Homo sapiens: one gene and its partner. The protein of the gene in region 2 interacts with the protein of the main gene of each other region in a pairwise test. Each region holds a gene or a part of one and is shown on either strand. Other genes may lie near its edges.

Region 1 (4,344 bases), on a different chromosome or scaffold from region 2:
TGTGTAAAGCTTGCACCTTGAGTAGGTTTTAAGTACTTCACAGAAGGGTAATAATTTTGCACAGGCCCTAAAAAAAAGGCAGTCTAAAATTGTTTCATTTCTTTTTTTCCCCCCTCTTAGTTAAAATCTCCCAAATTCATATTACAGGAGGATCCCTTTTCCCCCAGAAATTACTCAATGCTGAAACCTCTCAAAGTGGTATTAGAGACGCTGAAAGCACCATGGACGGGTTTTATGATCAGCAAGTCCCTTTTATGGTCCCAGGGGTAAGTTTATGTGGCTTTTGGTTTGTTTTGTCCTCCCTCTCCAATATGAGTCTTCCCCCTGTGGACCTCTTTACTACACTTGAGCCTTCACTTTCTGTTGGCCTCTTTCAGAAATCTCGATCTGAGGAATGCAGAGGGCGGCCTGTGATTGACAGAAAGAGGAAGTTTTTGGACACAGATCTGGCTCACGATTCTGAAGGTAGTAAAGCTTTCCCTGATTATGTTGTGGCTTCCCTGCTCCCAGTGACAGTAGCGTGTAGATTCTTCCCTGTCTTCTCCCTAGCGAAAGAAATATCCTCATTCTGGGGTCTTCTTTTTCAATTTCAGAGCTATTTCAGGATCTCAGTCAACTTCAAGAGGCTTGGTTAGCTGAAGGCAAGTTTCATGGATGTCCTATTTTCCATATAAAACATTTTACTGTGCTTTTTAATAAAACTTAAAGGTCTAAAATAAAAATCTATTTTCCAGCACAAGTTCCTGATGATGAACAGTTTGTCCCAGATTTTCAGTCTGATAACCGTAAGTACCTTTCTGGTGATGGCACATTTGTTCTGAAATTGTTTGGTCTTAGATCATCCATGTCTAGAATATGCTTTTTTCAGCTATGGCCAGATTTAGACAGTAGTATGCATTTAGTTTCTTCTAATAATTCAGAATTAACCCTGAAAACTTTTATTTCATAATAAAATTATTTCTAAAGTATTTCTACTGTATTGCAGGTAAGATTTACTGAACATAATTTTATCCTAAATTTCTTTTTACCTTAAGAATATTGTAAAGCTGACTGGGCACAGTGGCTCACACCTATAATCCCAGGGCTTTGGGAGGCTGAGGCAGGTGGATCACTTGAGGTCAGGCATTCAAGACCAGCCTGGCCAATATGGTGAAACCCCGTCTCTACTAAAAATACAAAAATTAGCCAGGTGTGGTGGTGGGCGCCTGTAATCCAAGCTACTCAGGAGGCTGAGGCAGGAGAATCACTTAAATCCAGAAGGCGGAGGTTGCAGTGAGCTGAGATCGCATCACTGCACTCCAGCCTGGGCAACAGAGCAAGACTCCATCTCAAAAAAAAAAAAAAAAAGAATATTGCAAAGCTTTAAGCTCAAAATTATAAATTAACTGACAAAATATATTTGGTGTTAGGCCAAGCATCTATTAATCACACATTGTTTTATGGCTTTTTTGGGGTTTGTTTTATAAATTAAGTCCTTGATGTGAATCATGAACCTGATATTTCTCTTTTTCTTAAAGGTGCAGAAAATAGTTAATGGAAAACTCCAGTTAACTTTGGCTTCATCCAACATGTTGTCAATTTTGTCTCTACCCCTAAGCTGACAAGGGGTGGTCACAGAGTGGCCTGATTTACTCTTACTTTTCGTGTAGTTGCTGTGGCTTTTCTCTTCAGAGAAGAGAAACTTTTTCTTAAAATGGCCACTAAGTGCTCATTACTAGAGAGAAAATGCAGTGGGAAGCTCAAAAGATGGCTTTCAACACTGGCAGGGGCATGGTTACTTTGCACTGATCTTTTGGGGCTGTCCTCAACAGGTTTGGGAGCTTTTATGGTCTAGGCAGAGTTATGAAGGACAAAGCCGGCTGATGAAATTTGAGCAGCACAGGGCTGCTCTAGAGAGCATTAGTCACTGGCGAATGAGCAGGTTTAAGAGAGGCCTGGAGAAAATGCTGCCTCTCTTGAGAGTTGCATCATAGAGAAATTCATGTCTCTTAGTCATAGTTTATAATAGCAAGCACCTGAGCCATGCAAGGACTCAATTTCTCATTTTGGACCAACAGATTCTTCCCAGCTTTGTTTTATCTCTGGGTAGGTGGGTGTATGTGTGTAAAAATGCCACTGGAGAGAGAGTATCTTAGGTCTCTCTCTAAGTAAAAAGTTGGGTATTCCAAATCTTTTAAATGTAAGAGCAGAGGTAACAGCTAAACATTCCTTAATGATAGGCCTCATGTCCAAGGCACAATGCCATGAAACTGTAAAAGGGAATAAACTGGAACACACACATGCATGGTTACCTTAGCTTTGTCACAGCTTGCTGTGGATGTGTTCTATGGGAGAGTAAATGCATGTTAATTATTGCCCTTTGATTGCTTTCGAGTGATTGGGAAGCTTGCCACTGAAAGACTAAATAAAGATAATCCAAGTGTGTGTGTGTGTGTGTGTGTGTGTGTGTGTGTGTGTGTGTGTGTGTGTTTGCAAGATGAAAGACAGGGTTTGTAATCCAACTTTGTTCTGTGTTGACAATTTGGCCCAGCCTTTCCAGTTCTTGCTCAGAGCAGCATAAACTGCAGTCTGTTTGGGAGGTGGCTTTCTTGGCAGAGGTTCTTTGAAATGCTTTTATGACACTTTTGTTTGTTTCTCTGTAACCCAAAAGAGTTAAAAGGGAGATGAGATGGCTGCATTCAAATTGATTGCATGTGCTGAAGCAAGGGTATGTTCTTTGTCAGCAAGCAGGATTTATATTTGGAGAGATATTTATCTGTGGGAATAGGCTAAAGTGAAGAAATCAATAAATGTGTTTTGGCTCTTTAGAAATAATTTCTGCTCAGCAAATAGAATGTGCTAAGTTCTTTAATTAAAATTCCATACCTCAAGTGGAGGTAATTTGGGAGATGTTTCTGCTTACCAAGTATGATGTTTTTTTTACTTTGCTTACTTTTTGTTTTAACTGCCTAAGGTTGAGCCTTTCTGTCTTTTAAGGATAAAAGAGATGGTTGACTAGCCTAGAAAAGGTCTTCTAATGATTCTTTCCCTCTGACTTTATTTCTTGAGGTAGAGCTTCAAGAAGGGATAGATTCAAATAGAATAACTTGCTTAAGAAGCAAGGCAAGAACACAAATGTGGGTGGTGCATCTTTGAGCCATTCATTCTTGCAAAAGCAAGTTTGTTTGCCTGCAGTTCAGACCAACAGCCAGAAGCATGAGGAGGAGCTGGCAGAGCCCACAGCCGGCTGCATGCACTTACTTTTCCATGAGCGCTTTCCACAGCCTCGAGTTCAGGACCAGCTTCACTCCAGTCATTTTCTGGAAGAGCTCGTGATTTTTTTCAGGGGAGGGAAGAAAACTCATTCAAATTTAATGAAACCTTATGAGTTGGTTTGACTCACTTAACCAATGAATATAAGCCAAACTTAGATTTGCCAGGGGAAAGCAAACCTTTTTTTTTTTTTTTTTTTTTGGAGAGAGAGTTTTGCTCGTCACCCAGGCCAGAGTGCAATGGCGCAATCTCGGCCCACTTACTGGGATGTCCACGTCCCAGGTTCGAGCAATTCTCCTGCCTAAGCCTCCCGAGTAGCTGGGATTACAGGCACCTGCCACCATGCCTGGCTAATTTTTGTATTTTTAGTAGAGACGGGGCTTCACCATGTTTGCCAGGCTGGTCTTGAACTCCTGACCTCAGGTGATCCGCCCACCTTAGCCTCCCAGAGTGCTGGAATTACAGGCGTGAGCCACTGTGCCCGGCCTGTAACAAATATTCTTACCAGTGGCCACTGGTAATACACTTTCCTATTAATAATGATTTGATAATTTTCCATTGTATATGTGTAAATTTATTGTATACATGAAAGAAAGAGAAATACTAAGAAATGTAGGTAATATTTTTATTTTGGAATGTCAGTTTTAAAGATTATGGCTTTTTTTTTTCTCTAAACACTAAAAGTTCAACTTCTAAAGAGATTATATTTTGTAAGTTTCTTAGAATTGGGTTTCCTGCCCATAGGGATACATCCTTAAGTCTGATTTGAGTGAATGAAACCATTGCTTTTATATCTTATAGAAATGCCCAGCTTACTTCTAGCTGTACAGATTTCACCTCTACCTCACACATATAGATATCAGTAAAGCATGGAGACTCTGAAAGGTCAAATTCAAGGGAATAGAAATCTATAGATCATAGGGATTCTACCAGTGGACCTCATTGTCCCTTGGTCCTAAGAAGTAACTCTGAAGATCTCAGATTGCTTGAGTTGGATGTCCTTTGTAGAGACAAGCTTGCCCAGCCCCCTCCTTTCACAGCTATTCCCAAATAGCTGAAGAGACTGACCAGTAGTGGGGGCAGATGGGAAGG
Region 2 (5,188 bases):
TGCTTAAAATCAGTAAGAAGCTCAGAGTCCTACAGTCAAATGACATATAGAAGCTTCTCTCCAGAGGCTAAGGATTCCTGGAGGTAAACAGGGAAAAGGACACATGCCTGAAATTCCCAACCAAGAAACATGCTGCTGCTTTGTGATTGGCTTTCTGTTCATCAAAAGAACAACTGAAACTAATTTTCCTGGACTCTAACCTTGAAATACAAGTAACATCAGTAAGAAAAACAAGCAAGTATAGAAAATAGAAGAGGTAAAAAGACTTCATGGGCAAAAGAGTTAAGCGTGAAACATCAACTGTATTAAATGAAAAAGTGGGCACTACAGATCTGCAAGATAAAAGGAAACAGCCTTGTGCCAGGTAAGAAATGCTGACCTGGTTCATCTACTCCACCAGTACAGGACTTGCAAGTCACAGCAGTAGAGGAACAACTATCAAAAGAAGTGGCCCAGTGCAAAAACACAAGAGGCCTTTGAAAGCAGTATCATGAAAGAGGCCTGTTGCCCTGCTGAGCACTACTGTGGCAACTAACTCTCATTTCTGGGTGGTTAGCTCGATCAGCAAAGTTAAAGATTTAAAAGAATGACAGGTAGAGAGATGGCCCAAAAAATGGTCTGTTGGAAAATTCAAAATTATCTCAGTTTAGGTACTATTAATAAATGTTCCATGAAAAATAATAACTTTATACTTGAAGTTGCTTTCAATGTGAACATAATGGCTGGGTGCGGTGGCTCACACCTGTAATCCCAGCATTTTGGGAGGCCGAGGCAGGCAGATCACCTGAGGTCAGGAGGTCGAGACCAGCATGGCCAACATGGTGAAACCCCGTCTCCATTAAAAATACAAAAATTAGCTGGGTGTGGTGGTGCACGTCTGTGGCCCCAGCTACTCAGGAGGCTGAGGTACAAGAATCGCTTGAACCTGTGAGGCGGAAGTTGCAATGAGCCAAGATCACACCATTGTACTCCAGCCTGGGCAACAAAGTGAGACTTCATCTCAAAAAGAAAAAAGTAAACATAACTACACCAAAATTCAAACAAAAATATTAACACTGTTGCCCTTTATGTGAATATGAAAGTATTACCTCAAGTTGTATTTTTTAAAGCTAATTCCATTCCTGTTCTTTTATCCTATATAATAAGTCTTATCCCATATGATTTTAATATCTGATACTTTAATAAAATGAGTAAGGATTCTTCCTAATTTCTATGATCAGATACATGTATGTCATGGATAAGAACCCAACTGTTTTTTCTCTAAGACAAAAATCTAAGATACTTGGTCACTAAAAATCCACCAGCATTTTATATAATTGTTGGTCACTCCCTAATGCCAAGAGTCAGTGCAAAAAAAGCATAGAAAGGTGGCAGAAAAGAAGAAAAAGGCGAGGGCAGCCAATTAAGGCAAAAAGGAGAGGAACTGAGATGAAGCATGTAGAACATTTGGAGCCGGGGGGAAATCTCACTCCTCTCTAAAAGTCCCAAAACTGTATTTGAGTTTGGACTGATTTATTTCTAGGAAGCACCGCTGCTATTTCAGATCCGCTTACCTAGGCATCTTCTTTTCACCCTTTCCAGCTCATGCACTCTTCTGGCTGACAGCACAAGAGAAACTCCTAGTTTAGACAACTGGTAAGCCAGCTCCTCACCAATTCCACTCGAGGCTCCAGTCACCCACACCACCATATCAGTCAGCTCCCATTCTATGGAAGGAATGTAAATGGAAGGAAGAAAATAAGCAATGAATTACGCTCATAAATCCAAGATTAGAAAAAAAAAAGAAAGCCTTAAACAATACCACTAAATATGAAGGCATGATGTATAGAGTTAAAATTTGAAATATTCTAAGAAAGCATCTCCTTCTTAACTAAAAAAAAAAAAAAGCATTAATACAAATCATACTAGTAACAGTTATCAACACAGTATTTGTATATTACAGAACCTTCATGACTTTTCCAGACTTTACTTCAAGGTAAGCCTTATAACCTCATGGTTTCACTCTAAGGCTCTATTTAACACAAACAGGTAAGATAAATATGATAGATAAGATAAACAGGCTAAGTAAATACAAAAATCACTGTCTGGACTCACTTTTCCTTAGCCATTAAATGAGGCATTCAGATTAGATGATGGCTGAAGGTCACATCCAGTTTTTAATTCTATTATTCTAATATTTTGCAATGGAGGTTGATGAAGAATCTAAATATACCAAGTTCTGTGCTGTTGATGGAAACATCCTAGATTTTTAAAGTAGTATTTTCCCCATTTGCCAATAATGCCTGATGCCTATCAGCTCAAGGTCATTTTGTAAAAATGTTCCCCAGATGCCTGAGCTTTCATCTTAGGAGAATATAGTAATTCACCCAAGAACAAATGCATATTACAGAGAGATGAAATATTGTACTCTGCTTCTCCAATTATGTTCCTCTTAAAAGACTACAAATGTTACAGTACTAAAGCAATGACAAATGGTTTATTCTTTTCTCCAATGAAAAACTTATTAGCACTTCAGGAGATGATATTCACTGTCTCTCTGAACCCGTAAAGTCACTGTTATGCAAAGTTCCTGGGTGACTTATTTACTAAAATATATGTTATTTATCAAAAATATCAAATATCGTATCACTTAACATCACATTTCCGATTTTAGATCAGAAAAGTTAAAATCAGGAAATGATTGTACTGTTTTAAACAGCTCTAAATCCTAACTGTGATGTTAACAGTACCATCCCTGGAGACTGCCAGGGTTCAAATGCCAGCTCCATCACACACAGCACTGAAATGCTCCCAGGTGAGAACTTGGTGCCTTAATTTTCCACAACTGGAAATGTGATGAATAAGAACACATCCTTCACAGGATTGTTGAGAAATGAGTTAAAACATGGAAAGCACTCAGGGCAGTATCTAGTACATACTCAGTGTTTAATAAACGTCAATTATAATTATTGCTCAAGTTTTTTAACAGATGGACTTTACTACAGCAAAACATAGAACAGTCACTTAATAACGTATGTCTCCTAACTTCTCCAGCCAGGAAAACAGAGTTACCAATTCTAATGGCTTAACGTTTTTACATTACTTCCTATGTACTTAGCACATTGTCTACTAAAAGCCTCACCAGAACTGTATGGAAAGGTATTATTATCTCAGTTTTACAGAAAAGGTAACTGAGGTTTACAGAGATTAATTTGTCCCACTAGACCATAGATTCCATTAAGGGTAGGACCCTGTCTACCTTGTTCATTGCTGTGGCCTCAGTGCTTAGCAAAGACTGGAATATTGAAAAGGCTCCATAAATAACTACTGAATAAACACCCAAGAACCCTGGCAGAGCCGGGATATAAGCCCAGGTATATCTAGCTCCAAAGCCCACACTGTCCACTATTTCATGATATACACATTTACATATGATCAATATTTTAAAACCCAACTGTTTCTTAGACATTCAAGAAAATACCACTTGTCCTTAAGAAAAAGGTTCCATGTAAATATCTCAACTAAGGCCAGGTACGGTGGCTCACATCTGTAATCCCAGCACTTTGGGAGGCCAAGGCGGGCAGATCACTTGAGGCCAGGAGTTCGAGACCAGCCTGGCCAACATGATGGAACCTGTTCTCTATGAAAAATACAAAAATTAGCCAGGTGTGGTGGCGCATCGTTGTAACCCCAACTACTCAGGAGGCTGAGGTGCAAGAATTGCTTGAACCTGGGAGGCAGAGGTTGCAGTGAGCCAAGATTGCTCCACTGCACTCCAGCATGGGTGACAGAGTGAGACTCTGTCGGAAAAAAAAAAAAAAAAAAAAAAATCTCAACTAAGGATGGAAACATCCCAAATACTATGTCTGGGCTACAATGCTTTCCTGTCATATAACGTACTTTTGTGAAAAGGCACAATTGGGCCACCTTCCTATAGGACTTTATCAAGAACAACATAACATCTATTCAGATAATCATTTATTCATTCATTGACTACTTGTTGTTCCCAAGTTCTGCAATCATCACACTCTAGAGTGAATATCATTTGTTTTAGAAACACAGGATTTACTAACTAGTGTCGAGCTAACAAAGACCTCTTGATATTTACACACATAAGCAAATATTTAAAGCTGATGGTGTAAACTTTTAATACAATCACAATTCTGGCCTCTTCCTCCCACCCTGAAGAAACTTTTTTATTTAGCACCGTTTGTTTCCCGATTCCACAGAATCTGGTATACATAATGGCCTCCCTTTAAGAGCCCCTGAAAGTAGATTCTTAAGAGTTGAAAGGAAAGTGATAGTTCAACCCCCACTCCAGTTTGAGAATTCTCTTCTCAAGCCCTTGACCCATCTCTAATTCCCTCACAGGATGAGGAAGCTAATTATCTCTGAAGGCTTCAGCTCCTTTTTTGGGAAAGTCTAATCATTCCAGGGATCTTTTTTATACTGATATGATAAGCTTTTAAATGCTATCAACCAGTAGCAGTGGGCAGTAATCCTGCCTTGTGGTTTGACAAAGAAGAAATCAAACTTCTGGTGTCGGTGGGTCCAAGTGTCCAGCCTGAGGCATCCTCCCCATCCCTTCCTCTCCCAGCACCTCAAACATTCATCAAGGATTTTGTATCCAAGGCCCAAAAGTTTGTTACCCAAGACGACAAATATTGACATGGATGCAGTTGATGCTGAAAATCATTTGGAATTGGAGGGAAAAACACAGCTTATTAATCAAGTGTTGGAACCCCAACATACACTTCAAGATCTCCCTGTCAGAGGAGATGCGGTTACGGAAGAAAATCTCAAGCTAAAATCAGAAAACCAAGTTTCTTAGACAATACACAGAAAATTTCATGTCAGCTTCTAGTGTTTTTCAAACAACTGACACAAAAAGCAAAAGAAAATACAGAATTGAAGCCCTTCTGTTTTATGGAATTGCTGCTGACCTTTCTTTATATGTTGGACAGATTTCAAAAGTGATAGTACCTTTGTTTGTGGTTTCATTGAATATTTATGAAGCTAATGTCAGATGTAGGCAACATTCATAGCATAACAGGAAACTTCCATAAGTTTGTGTATTATGTTAGTCTATGAGAATGTGCAAATGTATTGGAAACTTAATTTAGAATAGCACATATTTATGAAACTTAAGATGAATGTTTTATCAAATTTGCTCTGATTTGTGGGTTTAGCCCTGTCTTTTATTATAGGC

The links.
Region 1: the proteins of DHRS7 (region 2) and ETV5 interact in a two-hybrid assay, tested with the Homo sapiens proteins (one large-scale study listed by BioGRID and IntAct).

Annotation. Positions count from the first base shown.
Region 1 is NC_000003.12:186,101,746-186,106,089, reverse strand, and holds part of ETV5 (ETS translocation variant 5), read left to right. Parts: intron 1-147; 5' UTR 148-221; coding exon 222-266; intron 267-377; coding exon 378-465; intron 466-593; coding exon 594-641; intron 642-734; coding exon 735-785; intron 786-4,344. UniProt on the Homo sapiens protein: Binds to DNA sequences containing the consensus nucleotide core sequence 5'-GGAA.-3'.
Region 2 is NC_000014.9:60,154,447-60,159,634, forward strand, and holds part of DHRS7 (dehydrogenase/reductase SDR family member 7 isoform 1 precursor), read right to left. Parts: intron 1,707-5,188; coding exon 1,554-1,706; intron 1-1,553. UniProt on the Homo sapiens protein: NADPH-dependent oxidoreductase which catalyzes the reduction of a variety of compounds bearing carbonyl groups including steroids, retinoids and xenobiotics.